3 linked regions of the Homo sapiens genome follow. The protein of the gene in region 1 interacts with the protein of each later gene in a biochemical or structural test. Each region holds a gene or a part of one and is shown on either strand. Other genes may lie near its edges.

Evidence for each region.
Region 2: the proteins of PACSIN1 (region 1) and WASL form a complex in vitro, tested with the Homo sapiens proteins (one study listed by BioGRID).
Region 3: the proteins of PACSIN1 (region 1) and HTT form a complex in vitro, tested with the Homo sapiens proteins (2 studies listed by BioGRID and IntAct).

The regions. Positions count from the first base shown.
Region 1 is NC_000006.12:34,464,229-34,467,828, forward strand, and holds the start of PACSIN1 (protein kinase C and casein kinase substrate in neurons protein 1), read left to right. Parts: upstream 1-1,847; 5' UTR 1,848-2,042; intron 2,043-3,600. UniProt on the Homo sapiens protein: Plays a role in the reorganization of the microtubule cytoskeleton via its interaction with MAPT; this decreases microtubule stability and inhibits MAPT-induced microtubule polymerization.
Region 2 is NC_000007.14:123,747,045-123,750,862, reverse strand, and holds the start of WASL (actin nucleation-promoting factor WASL), read left to right. Parts: upstream 1-1,859; 5' UTR 1,860-2,128; coding exon 2,129-2,245; intron 2,246-3,818. UniProt on the Homo sapiens protein: Regulates actin polymerization by stimulating the actin-nucleating activity of the Arp2/3 complex. Involved in various processes, such as mitosis and cytokinesis, via its role in the regulation of actin polymerization.
Region 3 is NC_000004.12:3,238,681-3,242,498, forward strand, and holds part of HTT (huntingtin), read left to right. Parts: intron 1-137; coding exon 138-298; intron 299-1,165; coding exon 1,166-1,379; 3' UTR 1,380-3,818.

The sequences.
Region 1 (3,600 bases):
TTATTGCACGAATAAATACTGCATTCAGGCATTGCCCTGGGTCACTGGGGCATGAATTTCAGTGCCTCTCGTGAAGTGTGTGGAGAGGGAAGTCAGGAAATATAAACATGTGATTATCCCAGGCTCAAACAATAGGGAGCTCTGTGGCAAACTAGAGTCTGCATGCCTACCTGAGGGGCTCACATTCAAATTCAGCCACCACCCCCACCCCGCAATCCCTACACATGTAAAGGGCAGGGACCCATTCTGGTCCTGAGCAATCTCACTTCTTTTCCCTTCCTCCGGCTTTATTTTTATTTTTATTTATTTATTTTTTTCTTTTCTTTCCTTTTTTTTTTTGAGATGGAGTTTCGCTCTGTCGCCCAGGCTGGAGTGCAGTGGCGCCATCTCGGCTCACTGCAAGCTCCGCCTACCGGGTTCACGCCATTCTCCTGCCTCAGCCTCCAGAGTAGCTGGGACTACAGGGGCCCGCGACCACGCCCGGCTAATTTTTTGTTTTAGTAGAGACCGGGTTCCACCGTTTTAGCCAGGATGGTCTCGATCTCCTGACCTCGTGTTCCGCCCGCCTCGGCCTCCCAAAGTGCTGGGATTACAGGCGTGAGCCACCGCTCTTGGCTCCCGCTTTATTTTTCTACTCTGTGCATACCACTTTAAAATACACTCTTGGCCCGGCGCAGTGGTTCACGCCTGTAATCTCAGCACTTTGGGAGGCCAAGGCGGGCAGATCACCTGAGGGCGGGAGTTCGAGACCAGCCTGACCAACATGGAGAAACCCCATCTCTACTAAAAATACAAAATTAGTTGGGTGTGGTGACTCGCGCCTGTAGTCCCAGCTACTCGGGAGGCTGAGGCAGGAGAATCGCTTGAACCCGGGAGGCGGAGGTTGTGGTGAGCCGAGATCGTGCCATTGCACTCCAGCCTGGGCAACAAGAGCGAAACTCCGTCTCAAAACAAAACAAAACAACAACAACAAAAACCAAACAAAACACTCTTAGCTGCTGATATTGAGTATCTATCTTCCCTCACACATGTGAACTATGAGATGGCAGAGTTTTGGTCTGTTCTGTCCTCTGCTGCAGCCCAGCCCCTCATCAGTGCCTGATACAGAACAGGCCTTCAATAGGTATGTGCCCCGCTCCTCCCTGCAGCGTCCAGGCTCCAGGCAGCATTCAGGGCTCAAGTTCGGAAGAGTGAAGGCCGTTGAGGGTCCCCTATTAGGCCCCAAGCCCCCTAGAGAGCTCCAACGACATGGCCTGGAGTTTGCTTTGGCGACAGCCGGTCCTGCTGGAACTAGGACATGAGGGTTAGCGATCCCGCCCCATGGGGTCACAGGGCAGAAGCTGCGGGCAGGGGTGGGCATCAGTGGGGCGGTGGTGCAGGGGGTGTCGCTCCCAAGTCAGCTCACACGCACGTCTTCAACACACCCACCACACAGGCACCCGCACGCACCAAGGGACGCCGAGGCTCGGGAGAGGAGGAAAGGCCAAGGCGATGGGGAGATGGGGAGAGAGGCAGGGAGCAACATCCCGGGCTCCGAGCGCGCCAGCTGGGAGGGCTGGGGAGGAGGGCGCACCGGAGGGCTCCCGGCACGCGCGGGGCCGCGGGCAGCCCCCAGAAGAGGGAGCCAGGCAAGACTGCTGGGGCAGGGGTCGGCTGAAGCAGCGGGGAGCCGGACCCCACCCGCCACCCGCCACCCGCCACCCCCGGCGCCTGCCAAACTGGTTGCTGCCTCCCCGGCAGCCGCGGCGCGTCCACCTGCGCAGCCACCGCGCCGCCCTGCCCGCGCTACCATTGGCTCGCTAAAAATGCCTCTCTAATCTGCTCTGCTCGGTGCACGCCTCCTCCTCATCCTTCCCCCCTCTCCGCCTCAGCTCTGACCTTCCTCCTTCCCGCAGCCCCGGCGAGATCCCAGAGCGACGCGGTGGCGGCGGCAGCGCCAGCCCCCTCCTCCCCCGGGAAGTCGGCCGGGCTTGAGGCCGGGCCCCAGACGTCCCGCTTCGCCCCGAGTCGCCGCCGATGGTCCCCGGAGCTCCTGCCCCCAGGTAGGAGGTCTGGCCCTTGAATAGAGGGCGGGGGGGTTGTGTGTGCGGGTGTCCAGTTAGGGAGTGCGTGTTGGAAGTGGGCGCCGGGACTGACATCTCCCTGGGCCAGAGCCCGGGCAGGGTTGGGCAGTTGCCTGGAGAGAAGCGGGTGCGCGTTCGGGGATGCCTTCAGGGGACGGAGTTCGCGGGCATCACCCAGGCAGTGCCAGGATGCCACTGCGCTGGGTCCCTTGGGGGAGCGAGCTGGCATCGGAGGCCCTTACCCCAGGAAAAGCGCCGGAAATAGGTTCCTTGGGAAGCTGGGGCCTGGGCCCGGGCGGTCCGGGTCTCTGGACTGCTACCAGAAGGGGTGGGTGGGCTGGTGCCAGCTTGGTGCATAGGCTATTTATGGATCAGAGTGGGCTGGGGAGAAACACAGCAGCTGATGCCTGTCTGGCTTATGGTTAAAGGTATTTCCTTCTGTCCCCTACCCCTTCCCCCACAGCTGGGATGGGAGCGGGGAGGGGGGAGGAGGCAAGAAGGAGGCGATAATGCTAAAAGGCCCCGCAGATACAGAAGCCATGGGCTGCTGGGCACTGCCCTCCCCTGCAAGCCCCAGGCCACTTGCTGCCTGTTGGAGCTGCCTCTGCCCCTTATTTTCACCTTACAAGAGGCTATGAAAAGGTTAAAGGGTCATCAGGGTGTAGGAGACATGGTGGCAAACCCGGGAGCTTGGCCAGACCCAGCTTCAAGCCCCAGCTGCCCCTACCCACAACAGCCCAGGTCTGCACCACATAGGCAGTGACACATATGGCCGCTTATTTCTAGGCACAACCATAAATAACCCACATTGCCCCAGCCCCTGGCACAGCTGGGGTGCAAACAGGACTGTCTGTCAGTGATTTTGCTTCCATCCTCCATCCTGGCCTTTCTATCACAAGTCCAAATCATCACCCTCCAGCAGCTTCCCTGATACCCCAGGTGAGATCCTTGCCCCCTGCCCTATGTTCTTGGACTGCCTTGTGGCTGGGTTATTTGTCTTGTTCATCTCCTTCTAGACCAGAAGTACCTTCAGGCTGGGAATCTGATTCATCTCTGTCATTGCCCCTGCACCAAAGCAGGGTTTGGCACCAAGAAAATATCTTGTGGAATGCATGACTTATTGAATGAGTGAATGTAAACTCTGGGAAATAGCTGGCAACCTGAGGGAGGGGGTCGAGCCCCTTCTTGGGCTTTCTCTCTATTCCCCAGGACCAAAGAGCCACTCCACTCAAACCAGGTGGTTCTCTTTAGTAGGCCCTTCCTTTTTTTTTTTTTTTTTTTTTTGAGAGAGAGTTTCGCTCTTGTTGCCCAGGCTGGAGTGCAATGGCACGATCTCAGCTCACCGCAACCTCTGCCTCCCGGGTTCAAGCGATTCTCCTGCCTCAGCCTCCTGAGTAGCTGGAATTACAGGCATGCACCACCACACCCGGCTAATTTTATATTTTTAGTAGAGACGGGGTTTCTCCATGTTGGTCAGGCTGGTCTCGAACTCCTGACCTCAGGTGATCTGCCCACCTTGGCCTCTCAAAGTGCTAGG
Region 2 (3,818 bases), on another chromosome or scaffold:
TGATTAGGGTAATTAGCATATCTATCATCTCAAAAACTTATGTCTTTGTTTTGGGAACATGCAATATCCTTCTTCTAGCTATTTGAAACTATACAATATTGTTAACTATAGTCATCCTACAGTGCTACAGAACACTAGAACTTATACCTCCTATCTAGTTGTAATTGTGTATTTTACAACTTTGAAGTAGGTGTAATTATCCCTATTTAGACTATACCTGTATGAAACAGAAATTATTTTCATTTTACAGATGAGGAAACAGACGCAGAGAAGTAATTTGTCCAAAGTCCATAGGGTTGTAAGACTCATAACAAGAACTACAACTTGGGCCTATCTGAATCTTATACTTCTGGTACTATACTTGTTCACAGGTTTGAAAAGAGCTTTAATTTCTATTATTTCTCAAGAATTTGTAATGCTTTCTCTTGTCACTGTGCTTTCAACTTAGAGGAGTTGCAGTTTTGATAAAAGACAAACTGATTTAGCTTCTAGGTTTGTTAAATATGTAATTCAGAGGCAACTCCAGGCTTATATTTCTACGACTGCTTTCTAAATCTAATTATTTTATAAATAGTCCTGTTGCTTTAATTCACTTTTTACCCTAACATAATTAATCAAGTTTAACTTTGAAATCTCCATATTTTATGTGAGAACTCCCAAGGCTATCCACTTTTATTTTCCTTTGTAAATTTATTGTTGCTCAGCCTATTTCATTAATGGCAGCTTTAATTATAATATTTTATTATATTTTCAAAGTGCATGATAATGGTTTACCAGTCTGGTTAGTACATCAGAGATTTCTATTGGGAGCTATCAGAGATGTTAACATCCAACAATTTTACCAAAGTGTAATTGTTATAGACGTCTTAACATGAATTTACGCAACAAAAATATGTTTAATGTGGAGAACAGTGAGATGCATATTTGATAATTCACTGCAGTCTGCATCATCATCTCTATATTCCAAAATTTCGTCTTAAGCCGTTTAGTATTTAACTTACAGAAGAAAGGGGGTTATCTTAGATAACTTTTAATATCCTAAGGTATTTTCCAATTCACGATACAGGGAGAAAAGAAATGTGTCCAGGCCCTTAGAAGAAAATACTTTGAATTTAAATGTGACACATACATTAAACCCGCGTGACACGCCAGGCAGGCGGTGGAAGTCAAGTGCATTTGTTTTTGTTTCATCCACCAGGGCGATCTCTTTCACAATTCTGGGAGAGGCCTGTTTGTTCCTCCACTCCCACAGCTGAAGTTTGGGACAAAGTTTGAGAAAATCCCAGGCACCTGCGGCTCCTATCGAAGCCGGCGAGGAGCACAGGGTAGAGCGTCTCTTCCCAGTTTTCAGTCTTCAGATCGCAGGCCTCTCGGACCCGCAGAGCGAGCTTCACGCTGCAGCGCTTGAGAAATAAGAGCTATTCCAAGGAGGGGCCCTGGGTCCTCACTGACGCTTCGCAAAGGTGTACGTCCGCCCAGGGAAGGCCGGCGGCGCAGCGACGGCGAGGAGTCCCCATCCATCTTCTCTTCAAGCAGCAGTAGCTGGGTTCGGGTACCCAACCGACGAGCCGAGACGCCAGAGGCCAGAGTACGAAGTTGGAAGCCTGCGCCCCAAGCCAACCGGGATTCCACTTAGCTCCGCGCGGTCCGCGCCTCGGCCGGAAGGGGGCGTGGCTTCGGGCCCGCGCCGCGAGGCCCGCCGCCGAGTGGGGGGGTTTCTCCCGGGCCGCAGCCGCGCGTTTCCGGCGCGCTCCCCCGCGCCCTCCGTCCTGTGGTCTCGCCCGCCCCCGCTGCCATGTTGGATTGTGCGGCCGCCGCCGCCGCTGCGGGAGGGTTGGGGGAGGAGTTGGGAGTTTAGCGCAGTCGCCGGAGTGCGAGGACAACGACCATCCGGCCCTAGCCTGGCCGGGCGGGTGCCGGGAGCTTCCCTTTCTCAGCGCGGCGCGAAGGTGGCTCGCCGTCAGCGCCTGCTTCCCTCGACCTCGTCCTCCTCCCCGCTCCGGAGGAGCTGCGAGATGTGGCGCCTCTGACTCCACTTCTCCCCGCCCCTGTCACCGAGAGGGGGAACGAGCTCTCGCCCACTCGCCGGAGGAGACGGCCCTGGACTCCCAACCCCGCCGGCGAAACCATGAGCTCCGTCCAGCAGCAGCCGCCGCCGCCGCGGAGGGTCACCAACGTGGGGTCCCTGTTGCTCACCCCGCAGGAGAACGAGTCCCTCTTCACTTTCCTCGGCAAGAAATGTGTGGTCAGTGGACGAGACCCGCGTCGCCACCCGTGACATTACCTCACGGGCCCGGGCTTGGGGGCCGGGAAGTGGGAGTGGGGAAGGAGGCGGGAGCGGCGCGGGCCAGGCCTCCCGCCAGCCCCGGCCCCGGCCCCGGCCCCTCGTCGGCGCCCTCGCCCTGCTCCCAGGGTGCGGGCCGTGGCGGTCGGGCGCCGCCTTCCCGAGCTGCTGGAGAATAAGGGAGTGTCACCTCCGCAGGCCTGTCCTCCAGCCTGGCCGGGCCTCGGCCCGCGCCCTTGCTGCTGGTTAAAACTTTATTCTCAGGCCACAAGGGGATTTTCTTGCAAGAGCCGCTTGGTCCTAGAATCTGGGCCCTTGTTCTAGCTCTCGCTTCACCTCTTACTGCTTGATCTGGGGGTACGTTCCTTAACAATGCCAGGTTTGAGGAGTGGATAGGTCGGGGAAGGAAGGTGGTTTTTAATCTCCCATTAGGATTCCAGGAGGGAATGAAGTCGAGTGCAAGAGCCTGGGCTCTCTTCGGATTAGAGAGGGTGCAAGAAATGTTATTGCTCTTCGTTAAAGAGAAACAAGATTTATTTCTCTAGCAACCTTGCCTAGGCCTGGTTTCTACTCTCCTTCCCACTGATTTTTTTTTTCCCCCCATTGGTGGGAGGGGGTGCTGCTCTCCCCGCAGCCATGCGCAGGGAAACCTCAATCTCTGGTAGCTCTTGGCTTTTGGGGCCGAGAATGATTCTTAGTTTGGTGCTGTGCGGCCAATTCCAACCCCAGATGGCCGGTTGGGAGCGAGCAGTTCTGCTGTGGGAAGGGGAATGTGTGTTGTTGACGGAAGCATTCATTACATTGGCTGCTGGCAATTCTGGGGGTGGGGAGGTTCTGCTCTGTGGTGTAGGCCTTGTCGGGATCATACTGCGGTGACTGGGTTGAAGTGTGGTTTGTTGAAATACTGGCTGGATCCCTTTCTCTCCACTTTGCTAGCACCTGCAGAGTATGTGCCACTGGAACCCAGAAAACACGGAAATTTCAACAAAGCAATACCATTTTATAACTCCTTTAAGTAATATTAGGTATGCCAAACCAGATTTCACCTGCTTCTTTAAGAAGTTAGGATTAGACAATTTCTGGAAAGTTATTGGATTCATTGTTAACTTCATAGGAGTCCACCCTTTGTATCTTGTGCCATCCGGTTGGAGATTGAATCGTTCCATTCAATTTCAGATGTGTTTCATATTTCGGAATTTAGACCTTAGAGAACATTGAGTTTCCTGATTAGAAGGATGAAACAAGAGGAGTGGCTCAAAACGAGAATTTTGGGTAACAACTTTAAGCCCCTCCCCATTCACACACACTTTTTTCAACAAATGAGAAAACTGATCCAGTGAGCCCAAGTCATACAGCAATTTAATAATGTAACCAGAACTAGAAAACCAGGACTCCTCACACCTAGTCCTATCCCATTGTACTTTGCACTACATCATGTTGTTTTAGAAGGGTATTTTTTTTTCCTGTTACTGATTTATTTCTAAAAGTGGTGTTAAAGAAATAACCACTTTGCCTTTTTCACCAAAAACTAATT
Region 3 (3,818 bases), on another chromosome or scaffold:
ATTCGCCAGCAGAGCCCAGCTCCTCCGCTTTAAAGCAGCAATGCCTCTGGCCCCCACCCCACCCCCGCCACCCAGGCGCAGCAGGTGCTTCCCGTCCCCCCAGCCCTGACACTCAGGCACCTGCTTGCTCCTTGCAGGTGTTTCAGACTCTGCACAGCACCGGGCAGTCGTCCATGGTCCGGGACTGGGTCATGCTGTCCCTCTCCAACTTCACGCAGAGGGCCCCGGTCGCCATGGCCACGTGGAGCCTCTCCTGCTTCTTTGTCAGCGCGTCCACCAGCCCGTGGGTCGCGGCGATGTATCCTCTCTGGGTCCCTGGTGCTGGCCCCGTTTCCCTTGTCAACACCGAGGCTCATGTTTCATGATAAGGTTTTGAAACCTAACCTTTGCAAAAACCCCACAGATGCCAGGGTGACAGGCCCTCAGCCCCAGGGAAGTAAAATGCTGACAGGGGTACAGAAAGGAGCACGTCCAGACATTTGCTGACCAGGGCCTCTCAGAGGGGCCGGTGTATGGCAGGAGGGTCGCAGCTGAGGGGCCTTTCTGTGGAGGGCCTGGGTGAGGGGAGCGAGGGTGGGCGGTGGTCTCTGCAGACGTCCCGCCCACTCGCGGGCTCTGTGTGGCTGGGCTTCTCCTGACACTGCTTCTCATTAGCTTTGGTCATTGTGCCTCGATCGCCCTCTCGGGGAAAGGCTTAAGTAAAGATCCAGTTCCCACCCCCAGATGCTGGCTGCCAGGAGTTTCCCTTTCCACAGCCCTTCCCCAAGACAGACCACAAGAGCCTCCAAGCAGCACAGTTGTCCTGGTGCTGACAGCACAGCCTTGCCCGGCGTGCCTGGCACGGCTCTGCCCTCACTGCATTGGAGCAGGGCTAGTGGAGGCCAGCGGAAGCACCGGCCACCAGCGCTGCACAGGAGCCAGGCCAGGTGAGTGCTGCCGAGTGGGTGCCCTGCCTGCAGGGCATCCAGCCAGCCAAGGGTTGCAGGAATGGAGGTGGAGGCGCTGATGCAGCTGGAGGCATCCAGGTGGCCCTTCCGGGGCTCTGCTCGCTCTCCAGGCTCCCTGGACCCCTTTGTAGACTGTTTCAGGAGAGGAACTCCCAGGTGAGGACAGGGAGGCAGCATTCCCCTCATTTGCCGGCCTTTTTCCTTAACTCCTGCACCAGCCTCCCACATGTCATCAGCAGGATGGGCAAGCTGGAGCAGGTGGACGTGAACCTTTTCTGCCTGGTCGCCACAGACTTCTACAGACACCAGATAGAGGAGGAGCTCGACCGCAGGGCCTTCCAGTCTGTGCTTGAGGTGGTTGCAGCCCCAGGAAGCCCATATCACCGGCTGCTGACTTGTTTACGAAATGTCCACAAGGTCACCACCTGCTGAGCGCCATGGTGGGAGAGACTGTGAGGCGGCAGCTGGGGCCGGAGCCTTTGGAAGTCTGCGCCCTTGTGCCCTGCCTCCACCGAGCCAGCTTGGTCCCTATGGGCTTCCGCACATGCCGCGGGCGGCCAGGCAACGTGCGTGTCTCTGCCATGTGGCAGAAGTGCTCTTTGTGGCAGTGGCCAGGCAGGGAGTGTCTGCAGTCCTGGTGGGGCTGAGCCTGAGGCCTTCCAGAAAGCAGGAGCAGCTGTGCTGCACCCCATGTGGGTGACCAGGTCCTTTCTCCTGATAGTCACCTGCTGGTTGTTGCCAGGTTGCAGCTGCTCTTGCATCTGGGCCAGAAGTCCTCCCTCCTGCAGGCTGGCTGTTGGCCCCTCTGCTGTCCTGCAGTAGAAGGTGCCGTGAGCAGGCTTTGGGAACACTGGCCTGGGTCTCCCTGGTGGGGTGTGCATGCCACGCCCCGTGTCTGGATGCACAGATGCCATGGCCTGTGCTGGGCCAGTGGCTGGGGGTGCTAGACACCCGGCACCATTCTCCCTTCTCTCTTTTCTTCTCAGGATTTAAAATTTAATTATATCAGTAAAGAGATTAATTTTAACGTAACTCTTTCTATGCCCGTGTAAAGTATGTGAATCGCAAGGCCTGTGCTGCATGCGACAGCGTCCGGGGTGGTGGACAGGGCCCCCGGCCACGCTCCCTCTCCTGTAGCCACTGGCATAGCCCTCCTGAGCACCCGCTGACATTTCCGTTGTACATGTTCCTGTTTATGCATTCACAAGGTGACTGGGATGTAGAGAGGCGTTAGTGGGCAGGTGGCCACAGCAGGACTGAGGACAGGCCCCCATTATCCTAGGGGTGCGCTCACCTGCAGCCCCTCCTCCTCGGGCACAGACGACTGTCGTTCTCCACCCACCAGTCAGGGACAGCAGCCTCCCTGTCACTCAGCTGAGAAGGCCAGCCCTCCCTGGCTGTGAGCAGCCTCCACTGTGTCCAGAGACATGGGCCTCCCACTCCTGTTCCTTGCTAGCCCTGGGGTGGCGTCTGCCTAGGAGCTGGCTGGCAGGTGTTGGGACCTGCTGCTCCATGGATGCATGCCCTAAGAGTGTCACTGAGCTGTGTTTTGTCTGAGCCTCTCTCGGTCAACAGCAAAGCTTGGTGTCTTGGCACTGTTAGTGACAGAGCCCAGCATCCCTTCTGCCCCCGTTCCAGCTGACATCTTGCACGGTGACCCCTTTTAGTCAGGAGAGTGCAGATCTGTGCTCATCGGAGACTGCCCCACGGCCCTGTCAGAGCCGCCACTCCTATCCCCAGGCCAGGTCCCTGGACCAGCCTCCTGTTTGCAGGCCCAGAGGAGCCAAGTCATTAAAATGGAAGTGGATTCTGGATGGCCGGGCTGCTGCTGATGTAGGAGCTGGATTTGGGAGCTCTGCTTGCCGACTGGCTGTGAGACGAGGCAGGGGCTCTGCTTCCTCAGCCCTAGAGGCGAGCCAGGCAAGGTTGGCGACTGTCATGTGGCTTGGTTTGGTCATGCCCGTCGATGTTTTGGGTATTGAATGTGGTAAGTGGAGGAAATGTTGGAACTCTGTGCAGGTGCTGCCTTGAGACCCCCAAGCTTCCACCTGTCCCTCTCCTATGTGGCAGCTGGGGAGCAGCTGAGATGTGGACTTGTATGCTGCCCACATACGTGAGGGGGAGCTGAAAGGGAGCCCCTCCTCTGAGCAGCCTCTGCCAGGCCTGTATGAGGCTTTTCCCACCAGCTCCCAACAGAGGCCTCCCCCAGCCAGGACCACCTCGTCCTCGTGGCGGGGCAGCAGGAGCGGTAGAAAGGGGTCCGATGTTTGAGGAGGCCCTTAAGGGAAGCTACTGAATTATAACACGTAAGAAAATCACCATTCCGTATTGGTTGGGGGCTCCTGTTTCTCATCCTAGCTTTTTCCTGGAAAGCCCGCTAGAAGGTTTGGGAACGAGGGGAAAGTTCTCAGAACTGTTGGCTGCTCCCCACCCGCCTCCCGCCTCCCCCGCAGGTTATGTCAGCAGCTCTGAGACAGCAGTATCACAGGCCAGATGTTGTTCCTGGCTAGATGTTTACATTTGTAAGAAATAACACTGTGAATGTAAAACAGAGCCATTCCCTTGGAATGCATATCGCTGGGCTCAACATAGAGTTTGTCTTCCTCTTGTTTACGACGTGATCTAAACCAGTCCTTAGCAAGGGGCTCAGAACACCCCGCTCTGGCAGTAGGTGTCCCCCACCCCCAAAGACCTGCCTGTGTGCTCCGGAGATGAATATGAGCTCATTAGTAAAAATGACTTCACCCACGCATATACATAAAGTATCCATGCATGTGCATATAGACACATCTATAATTTTACACACACACCTCTCAAGACGGAGATGCATGGCCTCTAAGAGTGCCCGTGTCGGTTCTTCCTGGAAGTTGA